3 linked regions of the Homo sapiens genome follow. The protein of the gene in region 3 purifies or fractionates together with the protein of the main gene of each other region. This does not show direct contact. Each region holds a gene or a part of one and is shown on either strand. Other genes may lie near its edges.

Region 1 (7,110 bases), on a different chromosome or scaffold from region 3:
CGCCTCTCCCCTTGGGGGCACCAGGATCCCAATCCTCTGTCATTCGCACACCCCTGGCTCCAGGGAGAACTCAGGAGCCTTCATGGGCCTCGTCCTCTGACAGGGACAGCACTGATGAGTCACCATCTGTGGGAGGCACCGCGTCCGGAATTCAACCCCGGGAGCTGGAACGTTCTTTCCATGCAGACTTCTGCTCACATCCCTGTTCCTCTCTCCTGCTGGACACCCCACAGGAACGCGCTCAAGGATGACACTGCAGGGAGCTGCTCCGGGGGAGGGCCTGGCCCACTCTGGGACATGTGTGACCTTTGAACCCCTGTGCCTGCAGCCGTGGCTCCTTCCTGCCTCTGCTGCAGATACCGAGGCCGGGGCATCCCAAATCCTGAACTCCAGGGGTGGGAATTGAGGCCTTTATCAGGAAAACTCATCCTAAGAAAACTGCAGTGGGTTCCTGGGTCCCAGTGGCTTCTCCCATGGGGAAGAGGGTGCAGGAGGCCGAGGGAGGAGGGAGGGCAGGTGGAGGCATGGGTTGCAGGGTGAGGGTGCGGGACCCACCCACGAGCTTCACCCCTCGGACCGGCTTCCCGTGCAGCTCGCCCTCACAGTAAAAGATGTAGTGGTCCTTCACGTGCGACCTGATGATGTATGCCACGTGCTTGCCCCCGTCTGCAGAAAGACAGCAGCACATTCCTGAATTAGCCACCAGGGACTTCAGAGAGGATCCCGGGACAGCGTGCGTTGCCAGGCCCAGCAAGCCCCGCAGCTCCTGCACCCTCCCAGCCTCCCAGAGCTCCCTGACCCAGGTTCCCCACCAGGCCTGAGCCCCAGGCCATGGGACCCCCACTTCCCAGGAACCTGATGTACCCAAGAGGCGGCCACATCCCAAACCAGTGAGTCACGGGGGGTTCCTCCGGGTATGAGGTCTGCGGAGGTGGGAGTTGGGGTACAGCCCCCCGCAGCCAAATACGACTCTGCTCCTGGCCCTGCCAGAGCCACAGCCAGGGCTACAGGGCAAGCCCAGAGGGTCCGCCCCGGGACAAACCTGCCACACCTGGTGTTTGGGGTCAGGTGTTCAAGTCTCTAATGCAAATTGACCAGTGGGAGAAGAGAGTGGGCTTTTAGTGGAGTCAGAAGGCAGCAAAAGGCTTCCCAGGCCAAAAGGCCACCCCAAAAAGGCACTGGCTGCCCCCGCACATCCAGCGTGTGTTCAAGCTCAGGCTCTGGCTCAGGCCCCGGGACTCACCGGCCGTGTATTTTCCCGGCTCGTCAGTTTTCTCCAGGACGGCCTTCACCTCCTGGCACCGGCCACTTATCCTGGAAAACAGAAGCCCCCTGGCAAAGCGGCCCTGGCCTGTGCCTCCCCCGGCCCTGGAGCAACCATGCTGCAATGCCCTGCAAATGTGGCCCCGAGTCTGCCACAGGCCCATGGAGGAGGGTGCTTCTCTGCATCTCAGACCCAGGCACCAGCGGCCCCTCCGGGTCCCATGCGGCAGTTCCCGGGGTCTCCCGAGATGGCCAGGAGCTCTGCACCGCTCCTCCTGGTGGCTGCCTTCCCAAACCCCCCGCCCCCAACACATTTCCTGCCAGAGGCACCCAGGCTGCCTGGTTTGCAGGCAGCGTCTGTGGCGTGGGCCTGAGCCTCATCCCGCCAGCTGCATTCTTCCTTTTAGAGACATTCAGGCACAAGCCCCATATCCATCATCATCTGGCCCAGAGAGGGAAAGGTTCAGTGAGGGGCTTTGGGGGAAAAAAAAATCGGGGTCATTGCCAGGGTCAGTGACTTCCTGAGATTCAGCCCCCAGGACCGGAGCACAGGCACTGCATGCCACTCAGGAGGGAGCCATGCGGGTGAAATCACACAGGTGGGAAGTCACAGATGTGAGCCACGCGGGTGGAAGCAGCCCAGGTGAGAGCCGCACAGGTGAGCGCTACACAGGGATTTCAAGGGGGTCTTCTCCATGGTGTCTTCTCCTATGCCCCCTCTTGGTCATTCTGCAAGCCCCATCCCTGCACTTCTCCAAAGCAGAAATTTACTGCCAGGACTGGCTCTGACTCTGGTCGGGGGTAAACACCTTTTCCCAAAGGGGCCTGCACGTCACCAGACATTCCCTAGTCGGAGGAGGAAGTGGGCGGTACCCAGGGCTGCCACTGGTAGCCCACAGGGTCTGATCCGGGGCCTCTGCCCCCTCAGGGCCCCTCCAGCCGAGGCACCTCAGTGGCACAGTTTGCCCTCAAGCATTGCAGGAGGGGCCGAGAGAGGCCTCCCAGCAGGTCTGCCCACCTCCCCAGCACCAGAGCTCTCCTGGGTGGGGAAAGGGAAGGCCCTAGACCAGGTTGCAGGCTGCCCGGCCGGCTGGCAGACACTCACAGCATGGTGACCTTGGCTTCCAGGTTGCCCCCTTCCAGGGTCGTGAGGGTCATGGGTGTCACCGATTCCAGATTCATCTCAGGGAACTCCCTGTCCACCGTCATGGCCTTCAGATACCACGTCCCTGACACCTGGAGAAGGCCCCTCTCTATCAGGCTCAGGCCGACTGCTCCAGAGCCTCCCCCTTCCCTGGCCTGCAGCCCCTAGACTCTACCGCACCCCGAGGGCTGGAAACGGGGAACGTTCCCCAATCTAACCCACCCAGAAAACACCCAGCACCCTCGCCAGGCCCACTTGAAGGTGGCTCCAGCCCCCACAAGCCAGCCAGGACCACAGGAGCCCTCATCCCCAGGGAAGAAGTGAAGTCAGCCAGACCCCCACCCTCCCAGCCCTGCCCACTCTGCACCCCTGCGCCACCTACCCTGCCAGCCCAGACCCCTGCTGCCCCATCCCACCATTCCCTCAGGGCAGGGCTTGAATGCCCAACCCAAAAACGAGGGTCTCCTTGGATGGAGGAGGCATGGGGTCTCCATCCAGTCTCAGCCTCGCCCCTTGCCCCCTCCAGCCCAGCCTTCCCATCCGGGCCTCACATCCTGAATCTCCTCGTCTGAGGCCAGGAGGTGGTGGGCCTGCAGGGCAGCAATGAGGCCAAGGCTGACGGCCAGGAGCAGGGGCTTCATCTCCGGAGTCTGAGTCCACGGCCGCCTGACAGGTCGCTTGCTGGGGCTGGGAGAGGCTGTACCAGTCCTCCCACAGCCGCCCTTTATACCGCTGGGCTCAGGGTCCCCCAGGGACCTGGCACAGGAGACTGACCAATCCCTTCCTGGATGTAAACCACTGCCAGTTCTGCAATGGAGCAGATAACCTGCCATTATTGTTGGAGGCTGGTGAATAACAGCTTGTTAATCCCAGAGGATCACTTGGACAGGACCAGGTCCAGAGGAGCAGATTTGCAGATTTCACCTGAAGGGAAACTGAAGGGAGTGAAGGGTGTGCAGGCCTCCTGGGGACGTGTGCAGCCGTAACAGATGCCCCCCAGCCATCCCACACTTGCTGACGTGCACACTGTCAAGGGGGTTTGGGGTTGGAGTCCGAGGGCCGTGGGCTTGGGGCTCAGCTGAGCTTCCTGCATCTCTGGGCAGGTTACTTGGCCTCAGATTCATCATGGAAAAAAAGGGACCCTCCTGTGTGAACACGATCCCGTGTGCATTTAAAGACGGTGTCCACTGTCCTGAGCAAGGTGTGCAGTAACGACCCTCTCTGCTCCACACACAGAGCAGCAATAGGTCAGACAGACAGAAGACCAAGACAGGTGTGTGTGTGTGTATGCATGTGTGTACATATATACATGCACAAACGCACACACACTCACATAAAACAAGGAATGGAGGAGAAGCACAGGCTGGTGATGGGGCAGAGGCAGGGGCCTGTCAGCTCCAAGTCCCAAGGCAGGCAGAGAGGGCCTAGGTCCGGCTCCTGGGAGTGATGGGAGGGGCTTCCCTGACTCCAGAAAGAAGGCTGAGAAACCCTCCTTGACACATCCCAGGGCTGTAACTTCGTATAACTTAGTGGAGCACTGTGGGCATAGGAAGGCAAGAGGACATCAACACAGCCTCAAGGGCAGAAGCTGAGACAAGCCGTCCTTGGAAAGGATGACTTTATCTGTGACATGCTCTGCATCACTGCAGAGCAGAAGCCTGGGACCCGGGATGGGAGCAGAGGCTACAAAACACTGCTAGACAGAGGACAGTGACAACAAGATGGCAGAGAAAGGCAGAAATGCAGAGACACAATATCCTCACCTTGAAATAAGCTAGAAAGGCCAGGTTCCAAATTACCCAAGGAAACACCACACTAAGAAAGGCAGGCTAAAAATGAGCAATTGGTACAGGAACTTACACCAGCCAAGGAAAGTCTGACACACACTTTAAAACTGCAGGAGTATGATCAAGATGCCTAGTGATTTAAAAATATATAAAGTATAAAATTAGAACTGGCCAGAATATAAGAAATAAGGAGAGACGAAATAGAAATAATTACAAATCTTGAAGATGAATAATAAAGTGAATAAAAAACTCAATAGACAGGTTAAATTCCAGACTTGACATAGTAGAAAAGAGACTTAGTGTCATGGAAGATAGTACTAACAAAATCAATGAAAGCAGAAAAATTCAAAAGAGAAATTGAGGTGTTACAGATAGATTCAGTCTCCAGCCTGGAGCTAGTAATAAAATGAGTGGAGGAAACCAACTAGAGTGCAGCAGCTCTGAAAACACAACACACAGAGATATACACACACACATGCACACACACGCACACACACATGCACACACACACATGTGCACACATACAAATGCACACAAACCCATACACATGCACACCCACATACACACGCAGACATACACGCGTGCACACACCATTCATTCATACATACATGCACATACATGCACACATACACACACACATGCACACTCACACACATACACACATGCACACACATGCACAAAGTTAACACACATGGAGAATAGATCAGGAGGTTCCAATATAAACAGAATAGGAGTTCTGAAAGAAAAACATTTTCTAAAATGGCAACAAAGCAACAGAATAGCTCAGAATTCTTCAGAATTGAAAAGACATGAAGATGACACCCCAGATCTAAATTACCAAGGAATGATCAAAATTGAGAAATCCACTCCTAGAATATTACAGTGAAATGCAGATCATCCAGGAAAGGAGAAAAAAAGTCAAAATGACCAGAAAGAAGAGCCACACTACATACCATAAAAGCGGATGTGGACTGATGGCAGACCTCTCAATAGCAACGCTGCCTTCCGGAAGACAGTGGAGTGACGTCTTTAACAGACCCGGGAGAAATCACATTTACCTGTGAATGTTATTCTCAGTGCAACTTTCATAAAATATTGAAGGCAAAATAAAGACATCTCGGACATTAAAAAACAACTGAGGCCCAGTGTGGTGGCTCATGCCTGTAATACCAGCACTCTGGGAAGCCAAGGTGAGGTCAGGAGTTTGAGACCAACCTGACCAACATGGTGAAACCCCATCTTGACTAAAAATACAAAAATTAGCCAGGCATGGTGGCGTGCACCTGTAATCCCAGCTACTCAGGAGGCAAAGGCAGGAGAATTGCTTGAACCTGGGAGGCAGAGGTTGCAATGAGCTGAGATCATGCCACTGCACTCCAGCCTGGGCAACAGAGCAAGACTCCATCTCGAAAAAATAATAATAATAAAAATTAAACAACAACAACAACTGAGAGCGTCTACCACTCACTGGTCTCCATCAAAGGAAATTTGAAAGGGAGAATTTTAGCAAGTCTATAGGAGACCGAGGTCAGGGGGATAAATGATGTCAGCAAGGCAAACTACCTGCTGGCTGTACAAACACAAATGGTGCAGACTTTGATGGTGGGGGAAAGGTTCTGTTTCAGTGCATATTTAAAGAGTGCTAAATGCACACAAAACACACTTGTGCCCACATGCATGGGTTCATACGAACAAGAATGCACACAAAACACACTTGTGCCCACACGCATGGGTTCATATGAACAAGAATGCACACACAAAACACACTTGTGCCCACATGCATGGGTTCATATGAACAAAAAGATGCACGTTAAGCACGGGAGAATAGCGATGCATGGAGAGGGAAGTGGAAAGGGGTGGGCAGGGATAATAAATTTTCAAAATACATAAACAAGCCTGTTAGACAAAAGCATGATTTATTTTTCATCAGTATAGATGAAAAGGGCGCCAACATGAAAACAATTAAAAGCACAATCACAAGAAGACGAATGTTCATGAATGTGAAGGCATACCGCATCAAAATGCAGGAAGCCAAAACAGACTGAAGAACAAAGGGGTCAAATACACAGTCGGAACGGGAGACGCCAGAACTTCTCCATTAGAAACAGAGGGCGAGGGTGTTAAAAGTTCACAGCAATGTTGGAGCTTTGGCACCAACATTGTAAAGTATACAAAGACACTGCCTCAAAAGCTAAACAATTATATTGTTATAATTGTTACAATGAAAAATTTTAGTTGCTAATTCTTATTAAATACACATGGAATAGTTTTAAAATAGGCCACATACCAGGCAATATGGGGAACTTCACAGAACTAACGCAGCAGAGCCTGCCCTTTGTAGCTACAAGGCAATAAACTAGAATCGACAATGAAGAGACTGTTACATAAAGAGAAATATAAACTTCAAGTTTACAGCCTTAAACGCATCTATAATACAATAAAGATGTCAGGACAGAAGTCCTCTCTCTGTGAAAAGTTCTCGGTCATGAGCACGCACGTATGCCCCCGGCCAGCTCTGCGCTCCTTCGTCAGGACAGAAGTCCTCTCTCTCTGTGTGAAAAGTTCTTGGTCATGAACAGGCATTTATGCCCCGGCCAGCTCTGTGGTCCTTCGTCAGGACACAAGTCTTCTCTCTCTGTGTGAAAAGTTCTCGGTCATGAACATGCACGAATGCCCGGCCAGCTCTGCGCTCCTTCGTCAAGACGGAAGTCCTCTCTGTGTGAAAAGTTCTCGGTCATGAACACGCACGAATGCCCCGGCCAGCTCTGCAGTCCTTTGGTGGTCACCTCGCAAAGGAGAATTGATCGGAGCTGCTGCTTACGGGGCAGATGCCCGTGGCAGCATCACCACATGCACATCGTGACGGCGGCCGCGTGTGTCACGCAGCCCCCAACTGATGATGAGAAACCAACCTGA
Region 2 (6,966 bases), on a different chromosome or scaffold from region 3:
AGTCTCCTGAGTAGCTGGGATTACAGGTGCGCCCCACCATGCCTGGCTAATTTTTGTATTTTTAGTAGAGACAGGGTTTCACCATGTTGGTCAGGCTGGTCTCAAACTCCTGACCTCATGATCCGCCACCTCGGCCTCCCAAAGTGCTGGGATTACAGGCATGAGCCACCGCGCCCAGCTGCCAGGACATGCATTTTTAAATTTAGATAACTACTATCTCACCCTCCAAAAACACTATATGGATTTATCTTCCCATCTGTCATGTATGAAAGTGCCCATTTCCCCATGTCTCCCCCAACACTGGGTATTATTTATTTTTTATTTTATTTTATTTTTTTTTTAGACAGAGTCTCGCAGTCGCCCAGGCTAGAGTGCAGTGGCATGATCTCGGCTCACTGCAGGCTCCGCCCCCCGGGGTTCATGCCATTCTCCTGCCTCAGCCTCCTGCGTAGCTGGGACTACAGGTGCCCGCCACCTCGCCTGGCTAATTTTTTGTATTTTTAGTAGAGACGGAGTTTCACCGTGTTAGCCAGGATGGTCTCGATCTCCTAACCTCGTGATCTGCCCGCCTCGGCCTCCCAAAGTGCTGGGATTACAGGCGTGAGCCACCACTCTCGGCCAAGATATGCTTTTCTAACAGGCATATTACATTACCAGAAAATAGCTTCTGGGCAGTTTTAGGTAGTGTGTGCCAGTGCCAGTGGTCCCCAACTTTTTCCCCCACTGTGGTGGGCAGGAAGTCCTGTGCCCCTTCCCAGTGCCCCTCAGCTGGTACCTGCTGCTGTTCCTAGGTTTTGGGAACTCGGCACCTTCAAAGGAGGCAAGCACAGAGGCAGGGCGGGCAGCGCTGCTGGAGCGGGCGCTGCGGGACCTGGAGGTACAGAATGCCGTGTTGGTGAGCCCCTCGCTGAGTGGCCACTATGCCCTGCCCTTCCTGATGCGAGGCCACCACCAGCTACATGGATTTGTGCCCATCGCACCCACCTCCACCCAGAACTACACCCAGGAGCAATTCTGGGCTGTGAAGGTACTGGGAGAAGGATCTCAAAGGTCCTGGCACCCTGTCTGTGGCTTGGGGGGGTTCAGGACTCAAGTCTTACTTGGAGGGACATGGCCTTATCCCTGACCTTGGATGGAAGAGTTGGATGGTGTTGGGGAAGGCTTCCTAGGAAGTGGCTTGGGGGTCAGAAACTCATCAGGCCCCAAGATCACAGCCCCCTGCCTTGCCCTGCAGACTCCAACCCTTATCCTGTATGGAGAGCTGGACCACATCCTGGCTCGAGAGTCACTGCGGCAGCTCCGCCACCTGCCCAACCACTCTGTGGTGAAGCTACGCAATGCAGGCCATGCCTGTTACCTCCACAAGCCGCAAGACTTCCACCTTGTCCTGCTTGCCTTCCTTGACCATCTACCTTGAACTAACCCACTCCCAGCTCCCAGCCTGGCATGAGCTTGGACAGTCTGGACCGCCACCCTCCCTGAACCAGGGAGACAGCCTCTGGGATTGGAGGCCAGAGGCCAGGGTCAGACCCAGCCAGGACTCCTCATTTCATCTCACAGACACAATAAAAAAGCATATTTGTCCTGCCTGGGAAGTGACAGGTTCCGTTTCCTGGTGTGCTGTGGGAAAGACGGGAGTGGGAGGCAAGTCTGGGACTACTTTGGGCCTGGGAGCTGGAGGGGATGTCCAGCAGTCTGAGAAGGCTAAGAATGCGCCACTTCCTAAGTGCCTGGCCTCACCACTCTGTGCCTGAGTTTCCTTATCTGTAAAACGGGTATGATGGCAACACCTAGGTTGGAGGGTGGTTATAGGACTGAATGAGTCTGGATAACTGAGTACTTGGCCACATAAGGCTGGGGAATTGCTGGTGGGAGGCGGGGTGTATTACTGCTGCTGCATGACCACAGGGATTGGTGGGAAATCCAGGGTCTGGACAGCCAAGCCAAGGAAGTCAGGAACCTAGAGGGTATGGGGAACGCGATTTAACAATTAGCCAGCATTGGCCGGGCGCAGTGGCTCACACCTGTAATCCCAGCACTTTGGGAGGCCGAGGCAGGCGGATCACGAGGTCAGGAGATCGAGACCATCCTGACTAACACGGTGAAAACCCGTCTCTACTAAAAATACAAAAAATTAGCCGAGCGTGGTGGCGGGTGACTTTAGTCCCAGCTACTCAGTAGGCTGAGGCAGGAGAATGGTGTGAACCCGGGAGGCGGAGCTTGCAGTGAGCCAAGACCGAGATCACACCACTGCACTCCACCCTGGGTGACAAAGCGAGTGAGACTCCGTCTCAAAAAAAAAAAAAAAAAAAAAAAAAAAAAAAAAAAAAAAAACCAGCATTAGCTGGGCACTGTGGCTCACATCTGTAATCCCAGCACCTTGGGAGGCCAAGGCGGGTGGATCACCTGAGGTCAGGAGTTCAAGACCACCCTGGCCAACATGACAAACCCTGTCTCTACTAAAAATACAAAAATTAGCCCAGCGTGGTGGCACGCACCTGTAATCCCAGCTACTCTGGAGGCTGAGGCAGGAGAATCACTTGAACCCAGGAGGCGGAGTTTTCAGCGAGCCGAGAAGGAGCCACTGCACTCCAGCCTGGGCAGCAGAGTGAGACTCCATCTCAAAAAAATAAATAGCTAAATAATTAGCCAGCATTGTTATGAGTTAAAGTCTATTTGCCCGCATGAATAAATAGGTAAATAATTAGCCAGCATTGTTGTGAGTTAAAATCTATTTGCCCGCATGACAGAGTGAGACTCTGTATCAAAAAAATAACTAAATAAAGAATTATCCAGCATTGTTATGAGTTAAAGTCCATTTGCCCCCATGTTATGTGTGAGCAGCCAAGACTTAAACCTCAGGAAAGGTGGGACAGAACCCTTCCCACAGCGTGCCTCCTTGGCCTAGAGATTGAAGTCTTTGTCCCTCACCCTTCCCCAAGCTGACTCAGCCCCTGGAGCAGAGGGCAGACCTGGCTGGGAGTACAAAGGGCAGCTGGGGCACAAGTGGGCAACTGCAGCTGTGGCCTGCAGGGGGCCAGTGGTACACCTGTGCCTGTTTAGCCTCCCCCTCTGGTGGCTGCAGAAGAGCCAGTTTCCTCACACTGTCCATCCAGGGTCACAATTACATCCATTCACAGTGACTTCATCACACCCACCCACCATCTCACACTGTCACATACACAATCATATCCACTGATAGACTGCACACGCAGTGGCACGCTTAAACCGTCACACGTGCTCTTGTCCATGCATTCATTCCCATTCTAGGCACTGTCCGGGCTCGGCACGGCCCCGGGCAGAACCTTGCAGGAAGTGGAGCTCACAGCCTCCTGGAGTTCAGTGTGGGCAGACAGACATTGGCCAATAACTTCAGTACAAGTGGAGCTGAGGCGTCAGGGAGGACCTCCCCGAGGGGCTGAGGCCTGCAGTGGGGAGCCGTTGGAGACTTGCCGAGGAGGGCGAGGGCGCAGGCCCAGGGCTTTGCAGCTCTGCATCTTGAGAGCCTCGGGGCGGCCCCCTTTCCTCCCGCCCTATCCGGGGGCTGAAGGAGGAGGCGCCCTTAGGGGACGGGACCGTCCTGAGCTCCCGGCGCATACCTGGGGGCAGGAGTGGCAGGCGTGTCGTGTGGGGCGGGGCGAGCCTGTCAGAGCAGGGCCAGCCCGGAGCTCGCAACTCGCGGGGCGGCGCTGGCCGCGGCGGCCGCTGCCCGGGGACGGGATCCGGATCTAATCCTCCAGTAATCTCGCTGAGGCCCGAACCAGAGGCGGGCGGGGACATCCGCGCCGACGCGGCCGCTGGCGCCGGGACGGCCCTCACTGACGGTCTTCGGTCTCCGCCCCGACATCCGGCCTCGGCCACGTGGTGGGCGGACCGGGGCGGTCCTGAGCCTGCGACCTCGCAGGCGACCTCGCTGGACCCTAAGTCCAGGCCACAGTCAGGGAAGGGCGCTGAGAGGCGAGCGTGAGCCCAGCGACAGGAGAGTGAGGTGGGGGCCCTGGGGAGGGATAGAGGGACTGGGGCTCCGTGGCTTGAAAGCCGGGCAACTGGGAGGCGTTGGGGTTTTTCTTGTTTGTTTTTTGTTTTTGTTTTTGCCTTTTTTTTTTTTTAGGAGGGCGGGGGGAGTACAAGTCTGGGTTCAAACCTTGCTCAGCTACTCTATGAGCTGTCCTTGAACCTCTCTGAGCCTCTCAGCTTTCTCCTCTGTAAAGTGGGCATTCTGAGCACAAACTTCATGGGGCTCTTTTGGGGATTAAATAAGGAAATGTGCTGGAAGCAGACAGCCCAGCGCCTGAAACAGAATGGGTGCTCCTTAATGGGGGCTCCGAAACACGGTATCCTACCCCTGTGGGAAGTCCGGGAGCCGCCGTGGGGACAGGCTGTGTGCAGGAGCTCACCATTTCCAGGGTCTTGGAGGGGTAGTTAGCCATTCACTTTGCCCCCAGCTCACCACGCGCAGCGCCATGACCAGCAAGGGTCCCGAGGAGGAGCACCCATCGGTGACGCTCTTCCGCCAGTACCTGCGTATCCGCACTGTCCAGCCCAAGCCTGACTATGGTGAGAAGACGGTGGTTCCAGAGCCTGTGACGGGGCCTAAGGGACGGGGACTGTGCTCTAAACCAGCCTCCAACCCCTGTCACCCAGCTGAGCCCCACTCTGCTGTCCCAAATGGCTCCCCAACCCCTCCAGCCATTCCCCAAGTAAATAGACTGAGGCAGCCCCTCCAGGTTAGGGAGGAACCCTTTCCCCAGAGACTCTGCTGCTGACCAAGGTTACTCCTGGCAGCTGGTTAAAGAAAAACTTCACCTCACTCTCCAGGGCAGGAGTGGTGGGGGAAGCCTGAGGCAGCCACAGGGAAAGGAGAGGCCCTCCAGAAGCCCACTGGGGCTGGACAAAGGCCACAGCCCTTAGGGAGTCAAGCTTGGTGGCTAGGGCCTGGGAGGTGGCTCCTGCCTGTTATCCCAGCACTTCAGGAGGTTGAGGCTGGCAGATTGCTTGGGCCCAGGAGTTCAAGACTAGCTTGAGCAACATGGCAAGACTCTGTCTCTACAGAAAAAATACAAAAATTAGTCAGGAATGGTGGCACACCTGTAGTCCCAGCTACTCCAGAGGTTGAGGTGGGAGGATCGCTTGAGCCTGGGAGGTTGAGGCTGCAGTGAGCCGAGATCGCACCACTTCACTCCTGCCTTGGTGACAGAGTGAGACCCTGTCTCAAAAAAAAAAAAAAAAAAAGGAAAAGAAAAAAAAAAAACTTAGTGGCTGGGAATTGTGTACATGGGTCCAAATTCCTCCTCTGTGATTAATCAGCTGAGAGATGGTGGGTGAATCTCTTCATGTCTCTGTGCCATAGTTTCCCATATTTAAGGAAGATAACACCTTCCTCCAACCCTGTGTCCAGACATCCCCCTGGACTTCCAGAAAGGGTCACTGAGTAGCCAAAAATATCTTCTTTCTTGGGGATGGAAATGCAAGCATCTCTGAGGGATATGGAGTGTGTCGGGGAGGCAGCAGCCCATTTCTGGGTATGCTCCACTCTCCGGGCTGCCTGGGCTGGTGGGAAGCTGTGGGTAGGCAGAAGCAGCCCCAAGACACTCTGTGCCTCCAGGAGCTGCTGTGGCTTTCTTTGAGGAGACAGCCCGCCAGCTGGGCCTGGGCTGTCAGAAAGTAGAGGTGAGCCTGGGGCCCTAAGCGGGGAAGGGAGGTGGGCCTGGGCACTTCCTCACCCTGCTCAGACCACCTACCCTCCTGACCATCTCCAGGTGGCACCTGGCTATGTGGTGACCGTGTTGACCTGGCCAGGCACCAACCCTACACTCTCCTCCATCTTGCTCAACTCCCACACGGATGTGGTGCCTGTCTTCAAGGTGTGTAAGGGGCTGGGGAGGTGGGCAGTGCAGGCCTTGGGGACAGACATGATGCAGACCCCAGGATTCAACCTCAAGTTGCTCATGGTCCTGGCCCCAGTCCTGACACTAACTCTCAACATCCTTATGACATTACACCACTCAAGCAGCCTTCATCCAGCAGCAAGTTCTGGGCCAGAGTGGGGTGGGGACTGGGGGGTGGGAAGCAGGAGACAGCAATGGGGGATGGCAATCAGCTGCCTTCTTCAGCCCCCGTCTTTCCTCTCCCACCACTCCACCTGTCACTCCAACCCTATGGTGGGCTCCTAGGGCAGGGCCACTGTTGACCAGAGTGGATTAATGGCTAAATTTGGGGTTTGGGCCCCTCTTCCCATCCCTGCCCCCAGGAACATTGGAGTCACGACCCCTTTGAGGCCTTCAAGGATTCTGAGGGCTACATCTATGCCAGGGGTGCCCAGGACATGAAGTGCGTCAGCATCCAGTGAGTGTCCTCCATTCCTACTCCTCCACAATGTCCCCACTGGTCCAGTGGATTGAAGCAGGACCTGAGGGGGTGATTGGAGAAACTCAAGGCCAAGGAACACCGTGACCTCTTGGACAGGAACTACTGCCATGACCATTGCATGGATAGGGAGATTCAGACCAGAGAGGGGCAGGGACTTTCTGGAGTCCCTATCAGGGTGTGGCAGGGTAAAGTCCAGGACACAGGACTCCAGCCTGCTGGCCCTGCCTGTGGGGCCAGCCTGCGCATCTGGTGGCTCCCCCAGCACCTGGCTTATGCCCCCTCAGGTACCTGGAAGCTGTGAGGAGGCTGAAGGTGGAGGGCCACCGGTTCCCCAGAACCATCCACATGACCTTTGTGCCTGGTAGGAGTGGCTCAGATACCTTTGGGAAAGGGGAGGGTGGGGCGGGGCAGCCTCCTCATCTCACGTCCCTGCTGCTTTTACAGATGAGGAGGTTGGGGGTCACCAAGGCATGGAGCTGTTCGTGCAGCGGCCTGAGTTCCACGCCCTGAGGGCAGGCTTTGCCCTGGATGAGGGTGAGCAGGTTGGCAAGCCAATGAGCAGCCAGGCAGGGAGTAGGAGGCTGCTAGTGGGGACTG
Region 3 (7,106 bases):
GTTCTGTATTTTTCATCATAAGAAGATTTGGGTAGTTTTTACAAAATCTCTTGAGTTACCCAACTCAGGAGTTCAGTACTAACCACCCACGAAACATGACCTTTAATCCAAAGACTATGTATGCATGCTAATTAGTTGTTAGAGAGCATACAGACTCTGTCTCTGGTATTCTCCCTGAATTTATTAATTGGTTCTGCTAAAAGATTTAATAGATTCATTCTTAAAAACAGAGTAAGTGTGAGAGTTTTCTCCAATTTTATGAACAAATTAATAGCTAAATCTATGTACAGATCATTAATAATTTTCTCATAATAAATTCCAAGAAATAAAATGATGAGATTGAAGGATATCCACATTTTATAAATATTGCCAAATTACTATACTGAAATGTACCAATTTACATTCCTATGTTGTAAGTGAGAAAATCCAGCCAATAAATGTTAATGACATGGGGCTTCTGAGTCCCTAATAGGAATCCTGAGATCTCTAAATAAAGACATGTTGACTTGTGGATACTGATGGTACTTGCCTGCTTTGCACATGTAGAAGGTACCCGTCAGGTTGGTCTCAAGCACAGCGTGCCATCCCTTAGAACTGATGTGTTCAGCAGGGGAAAGAAACTGGCCTCCTCCATTGTTCACCAAGAAATTGATCTTACCAAAAGTATCTAAGGTAGATTTGACCAAATTATTCACCTAAAGAAGAACAGTAGAAGTTACTAAAAGGAAAAGTTTAATAGCCTAACTTGCTACCTCGCCTGATTGATTGCTCTAGACAGAGTTTGCAATCTCTCACAGTGAACAGTCACTCCAAGTGCCACAATGAATGAACATGCAGCAATGAATAAGACTAAAAATCCTACACCAATGAGTAATGTACCAGCACCCAATACCCACAGATCACAAAGCTAAAACTGTAATTTTGACGACAAGATATATCCAAGGGCCTGGAACACCCTTGAGTAGGGCAGGCCTCTGTCATATATTAATTTGACAGCTACCAACCCAGAATAAACAGTGATGAAATCAGATTAAAATGAACATTAAAAAATGACTTAAAGGGCAAGGCACGGTGGCTCACACCTGTAATCCTAGCACTTCGGGAGGCCGAGGCAGGCAGATCACCTGAGGTCAGAAGTTTGAGACCAGCCTGGCCAACACGGTGAAACCCGTCTTTATGAAAAATACAAAAATTAGCTGGGCATGGTGGCATGCACCTATAGTCCCAGCTACTCAGGAGGCTGAGTCAGGAGAATTGCTTGAACCTGGGAGGTGTAGGTTGCAGTGAGCCGATATAGTGCCACTGCCTTTCAGCCTGGGCAACAGAGGAAGACTTTGTCTCAAAAAAATAAAAATAAAAATGAAGACTTAAAGGACAAAAGGCCATCTTTAGCTGGACCACATTCTTGCCTCCCTTCCTCTCCTTCTCCAGGATTCGCCGGCTCAGTAAATCATTAACATGAGAATCTCTTTCACAGCCTCTGCTTCTAGTGAGCCTCATCTAAGACAGCTACAATAGGAGAACCTGAAGCATAGCCAGGTTTAAGAAACACTACTGCAAATTACAATGAATGAATAAATGATACAGATATATCTCCATTACCTCCTCCTCATTCCGGATGTTGCATTGTATGGGAATGACTCGTGCCTGCTTTGTGGGAGGTAGGTTGGCCTGCAGTTCATCTGCCGCAGACTTCAATCTCTCCAACTTACGGGATGCAATGACCACATTACTCCCTGAGGAGAAACAGCCAGAGAACAAATAAATATGCCTTCATGGGATGCAATGACCACATTACACCTTGAAAAGTAAACCGCCAGGGAACAAATAAATATGCCTTCATGAGTTGTCCAAATTCCAACAATAATAATATTGAAAAAATATATCATGTGTTCCATTTTTTAAAGTATTTTTTATTTTAGAGTCAAGGTCTCACCCTGTTGCTCAGGCTAGAGTGCAGTGGCTTGATCATAGCTCACTGTAACCTTGAACTTCTCCCGGGCTAAAGCAATCCTCCCACCTGGCCTCCCAAAGTTCTGGGACTACAGGCACAAGTCACTGCACCTGGCCATGCGTGTTCCTATGTCTTAAAAAAAAGCTGAATTAGGATTTTTGCTTCTGGACAAGATGGAGTAGTAGAAACTGAATTTGCCCTCCATCCTGAAATAACTAAAAAATTGGACAAAATATATGAAATGATGGTTTTCTGGCACTGGACATCTAGTAGCACTGGATGGTCATCTCTGGGACAGTGAAATCAAACATGAGCCCTTGGATTGCCCCAGCTTGCTGCCTGGAGAAAGGTTCTACACTGCAGCAAGGGAGGGGAACACATTCAGAGACCAAAGTCTCCCTGGCGGAAGAGATGAAGTTGGGAGTCTAGGGAGCCAAGGCAGTGAGATTGCCCAGGGGATAGGGAGAAAAGATATACAGAGAGCGAGAACTCCAGAGATCTGCAGAGTCTCTCTGGAATCTTCACCTGAGTACCAATCGATGCTTGGGAATAAATCAAAGAGGAAAGAACTACCAAAAATGGGCAGGGAGATCAAACCCTGGCACTCACACAGCACTGGGAATGGTTAGTGTGCCCACCAGAAAAAAACCTTTCACGGGGCATTCGGTAAAATATGCAGAAGCAGATGGCTTCTGCAGTGAGGCAAAATTCACCATAGACTAAAGGCTGCTCAGATCAAGCCTCTTTTAGAGTATCAAATTGTTTTCAAGTGACCTAACTGTATCCCAGAACAAAGCTCAAGAATATATACATATTTTTTCTTTTTCTTTTTTTTTTTTGAGACGGAGTCTCACTCTGTCGCCAGACTGGGGTGCAGTGGCATGATCTCAGCTCACTGCAACCTCCACCTCCCGGGTTCAAGTGATTCTCCTGCCTCAGCCCCCCAAGTAGCTGCGACTACAGGCGTGCACCACCAGGCCTGGCTAATTTTTGTATTTTTAGTAGAGATGGGGTTTCACCATGTTGGCCAGGGTGGTCCCAATCTCTTGCGCCTGTCTAAGAATATTTATAAGAATATAAAAATAGCCAACATCCATCAAGGTCAAATTCAGTATATGGCATCCAACAAAAAGAACTACCAGGCATGCCAAGGAACAGGAAAATAGCAGCACATAATTAGGAGAAAAGTCAATTAATAAAAACAGACCCAGGCCGGACGCAGTGGCTCACACCTGTAATCCCAGCACTTTGGGAGGCTGAGGCGGGCCGATCATGAGGTCAGGAGTTTGAGACCAGCCTGACCAACATGGTGAAACCCTGTCTCTACTAAAAATACAAAAAGTAGCCAGTCCTGGTGGCATGTGCCTGTAATCTCAGCTACTCAGGAGGCTGAGGCAGGATAATTGCTTGAACCCGGGAGGCAGATGTTACAGGAGCTGAGATCGCCCCACTGCACTCCAGCCTGAGTGACAGAGCAAGACTCCATATCAAAAAAAAAAAAAAAAAAAAAAACCGGAACCAGAAATGACACTGATGATATAATTAAATAGACCAGTGATGAAGAGAAAAATCTTAAAAGCAGCCAGAGAAAAACAACACATTAAGTATACAACAAGAAAGATAAAGACTTCTTTCAGAAACAATGCAAGCCAGAAGACACTGAAACATCTTTACGGTATGGAAAGCAATGAAAAAGATGGTGAACCTAGAAATCTTAACCCAGTGAAAATATCTCTCAAAAATGATGGCAAAATAAAGACTTTTTCACACATATGAAAGCTGGAAGAATTCATCAAGGTGATCTGCACTACAAAAAAGATGAAAGGAAGTCCTTCAAGTAGAAGGAAAATGATGCCAGATAAAAATCTAAAAATATACAGAAGAAGAAAGAGAACTAAAAATGGTTCGTGTGTTTGTTTTTGAGACAGGGTCTTACTCTGTTGCCTAGGCTGGTGTGCAGTGGCGATCTTGGCACACTGCAGCCTTGACCTTCCAGGATCCACTGATCCTCCCACCCCAGCCTCCCGAGTAGCTGGGACCACAGACATACACCACCATATCTGGCCAATTTTTTTTTTTTTTTTTTTTTTTTTTTAGTAGAGATGAGGTCTATGTTGCAGAAATAGTAATTATGTGAGTAAATATAAAGACTTTTCTTGTTTCTATTCAGATCTCTTTAAAGGTATAGTTCAAAGCAAAAATAATAACAACATATTGTAAGATTTATAACATATGTAGAAATAAAATGATTCCCTCCTTCTCCTTGAGAATAATAGCACAATGGCTAAGAAGGGGAAATGGAAGTAGAGACGGTCCTTCTTTTGCTCTGCTCCAATATGCTCTGATTTCAGTTAGCTTAGCTTAAAGACACCAGTCTCTCAACAACATGGTTCAAATTTCAACAACCATGGTATATTAACTGTAACTGCATAAAATGCAAACTTTACTGCTAGCTTTTCAACCCACAAATCATAAATAACAGATGCACATCAAGATCAGTGATTAATCATGTCATTTCTTCCAGCGTCTATCAGTGAATGCCCACTGTGCATCTCTTCTTCAGTTCAGAAGAGCTCAGACAGCAAATAATATAGCTGTGTCACCTCCTGGTCTTTCAACAAGAAACCCAAGTGACATTTTATAAAAACACATGATCTAAGGGGGGACTGGCCAACAAACATGAAAAGTGAGACCAAGAAATGAAAATTTGTAACACTGGAAGCGAAATTAGAATGCATGTCAGGGGAATTATAAAAGGGGAATGCGTGACACTGCTGCCAGTCTAGAAACTACAGAAAGCCAAAAGATCTTACTGAAGGCAAACTTAACATCATGAGGAAAGTGCCTGTGACAAAGAAGATGAAGATATCCCAGAGGAAGTGATGCCCACAAAAAACTTCAGATTAAAGACACTTTTGGGGCCAGGCATGGTGGCTCACTTCTGTAATCCCAGCACTTTGGGAGGTCGAGGTGGGCGGATCACAAGGTCAGCAGTTCGAGACCAGCTTGACCAACATGGCAAAACCCCTTTTCTACTAAAAATACAAAAATTAGCCAGGTGTGGTGGTGGGCGCCTGTAATCCCAGCTACTCCGGAGGCTGAGGCAGGAAAATTGCTTGAACCCAGGAGGCAGAGGTTGTAGTGAGCTGAGATCGTGCCATTGCACCCCAGCCTGGGTGACAAGAGCAAGACTCTGTCAAAAAAAAAAAAAAAAAAGAAACTTTTGGAAATATTTCATGACATTGAAAGTATAAAGGATAAAATGTTGGAAGCTGATCGAAACATAGAAAGGAGTACAATAATTTAACAAGGTACAGAAAAAAATGCTTGCTCTATATCATAAGGTATACAATGAGAAGGCAAGCACTAATCGAATGACTCGACACACTTCACATGAAAATAAAACAGTTTAATTTTCAATACTGAGGTTTTTAAATTTTTATTTTTAACTGACAAATAACTATACATCTATGGGGTAAAATGTGATATTTTGATATATAAATATATTGTGGAATGATGAAATCAGGCTAATGTATCTATCACCTCTTATCATTTCTTTGAGCTAAGAACCACTTTGAGCTAAATCCACTATTCTCGGAATTTTGAAATACACAATGCATTACTAACTATAGCCATCATGCTGTGCAATAGATCATCAGAACTTATTCCTCCTGTCTAAATGAAACTTTGTACTCTTTGACCAACATCTCCCCAGTGAAACTGGTCTACTTTTATTATTTTTTTCATGTCCCTCTGTGGCAGACTGCCATGGTTACTACTTGAGACCGTCACTACGACAGTTACTACTGTTACTACTTACTATTTGAGACGGTCATTACGACACTGAACGAAGGAGGATGAACGCAGAAATGAAAACTTAAAACAAAAGAAACTGTTTTAAAGGAAGGGGCCAGGGGAAGAAGAAGAGGGTTCCCTGCTTCTACTGAGTAAAGGCAGCAACCTTGAGCTCCTACGGCCTTTTGTATTTATTGGGTAGAAAGAGCAGGGAGGAGCAGGTAACATTTGGTCAGCTGCTTAACTGATCACAGGTTCACATTATTGCTAACAGGCTTCAGATGTGCCTCATCACAAGAAACACTTGCGCCTGGGTCGTGACTGCCCTCAGCATTCCTTCAAGGGTGGCAGACGCAGTTTGTCATTTGCCAACATTCTGCATTTATGAGAACAGTTTGCTGTTTGCTCATATACCCTCCAGCGGTATACTGAGTTGATCACGACCCTCACTCTTTCAGCCTGCAACATCTCTCCCTTTTTGTTTTTGAATTAATTGAGACAGGTAATTGCAAAATGTGCAGCCTTGGTGGTTCATTCCGTCTTCGCATTCAGCTCATACTGGGGGAACCGGGCCCATGGTTGGGATCCATGGGTCGCTCTAGTCTCCCGTTCTGTGGTCGCACACACCTTGAGGGCACCCACACAGTTTGTTCATCTCCTGCAAAAACGCAAGCGTACCCTTATCCCCACGTCAGTAAATCTACCAAAACAGAAGCAAAGGCTTTTGTGGCTGTGGCCAGGAGGCATGCCGTTGCCAAAGCATCTGCTCCACAAGCTGTAACTCAGCTTCTGCCTCTTTGGTTAATTACCACGGGGTAAACTTCTCATTGATAAGGAGAGGCAGGCTCTCTCTGATTAACAGAAGGCACATGGAAAGCAAATTGAAGCTCATCCTTCTCGTGCAACAGTATAGCAAAGAAAAAAAATCATTAAGCCTTCAATTTGTACTGTACAGGTGAGTCCATTAAATGTTATGGGTTGTGATAGATAAATCTCTCTCCTAGTTGTACTTTCAAATCCTTGATTCCCTCGCTTCTCCCTTCGTGGAGAAGGGTGCAACTTACAGGGAACAAGCAATAGTTGTGCAATATATTCTCCTGGTTCAAAAACCCAAAGTTCTTGTGACATTACCACTACTGGAATTTCCTCTTCACAATCAAAATCAACAACTCCTGGGGCTACAGTAACGCCCTGCAAGTTAAGATGACTTTTGCCCAAAACTCTCTATTTGTCTCTATTTAACTCTACCTCTATTTCTATTTATCCCTACTTATCTCTATTTGTCCCTGCAGGCCTCTTTAGGTCCCTTCAGGTCTCTGTTTGTCCCTGAAAGTCCCGTTTGGGTGCCACTTTGACA

The links.
Region 1: the proteins of PECR (region 3) and LCN1 purify together in Homo sapiens (affinity purification with mass spectrometry; 3 studies listed by BioGRID and IntAct, with this or other methods). This does not show direct contact.
Region 2: the proteins of PECR (region 3) and ACY1 purify together in Homo sapiens (affinity purification with mass spectrometry; 3 studies listed by BioGRID and IntAct, with this or other methods). This does not show direct contact.

The regions. Positions count from the first base shown.
Region 1 is NC_000009.12:135,517,436-135,524,545, reverse strand, and holds the start of LCN1 (lipocalin-1 isoform 1 precursor), read right to left. Parts: upstream 3,107-7,110; 5' UTR 3,049-3,106; coding exon 2,959-3,048; intron 2,500-2,958; coding exon 2,369-2,499; intron 1,315-2,368; coding exon 1,244-1,314; intron 667-1,243; coding exon 556-666; exon of another isoform or gene 44-555; coding exon of another isoform or gene 1-43. UniProt on the Homo sapiens protein: Could play a role in taste reception. Could be necessary for the concentration and delivery of sapid molecules in the gustatory system.
Region 2 is NC_000003.12:51,979,602-51,986,567, forward strand, and holds the start of ACY1 (aminoacylase-1), read left to right. Parts: upstream 1-3,933; 5' UTR 3,934-3,988; intron 3,989-4,445; coding exon of another isoform or gene 4,446-4,463; coding exon 4,464-4,557; intron 4,558-5,605; coding exon 5,606-5,670; intron 5,671-5,759; coding exon 5,760-5,864; intron 5,865-6,250; coding exon 6,251-6,345; intron 6,346-6,653; coding exon 6,654-6,730; intron 6,731-6,813; coding exon 6,814-6,903; intron 6,904-6,966. Other genes in the region: protein ABHD14A, read left to right, coding at 792-1,027, 1,235-1,417; ABHD14A-ACY1 readthrough (NMD candidate), read left to right, coding at 4,446-4,557, 5,606-5,670, 5,760-5,864, 6,251-6,345, 6,654-6,730, 6,814-6,903. UniProt on the Homo sapiens protein: Catalyzes the hydrolysis of N-acetylated amino acids to acetate and free amino acids.
Region 3 is NC_000002.12:216,064,783-216,071,888, forward strand, and holds part of PECR (peroxisomal trans-2-enoyl-CoA reductase), read right to left. Parts: intron 1,737-7,106; coding exon 1,603-1,736; intron 696-1,602; coding exon 530-695; intron 1-529. UniProt on the Homo sapiens protein: Participates in chain elongation of fatty acids. Catalyzes the reduction of trans-2-enoyl-CoAs of varying chain lengths from 6:1 to 16:1, having maximum activity with 10:1 CoA. Has no 2,4-dienoyl-CoA reductase activity.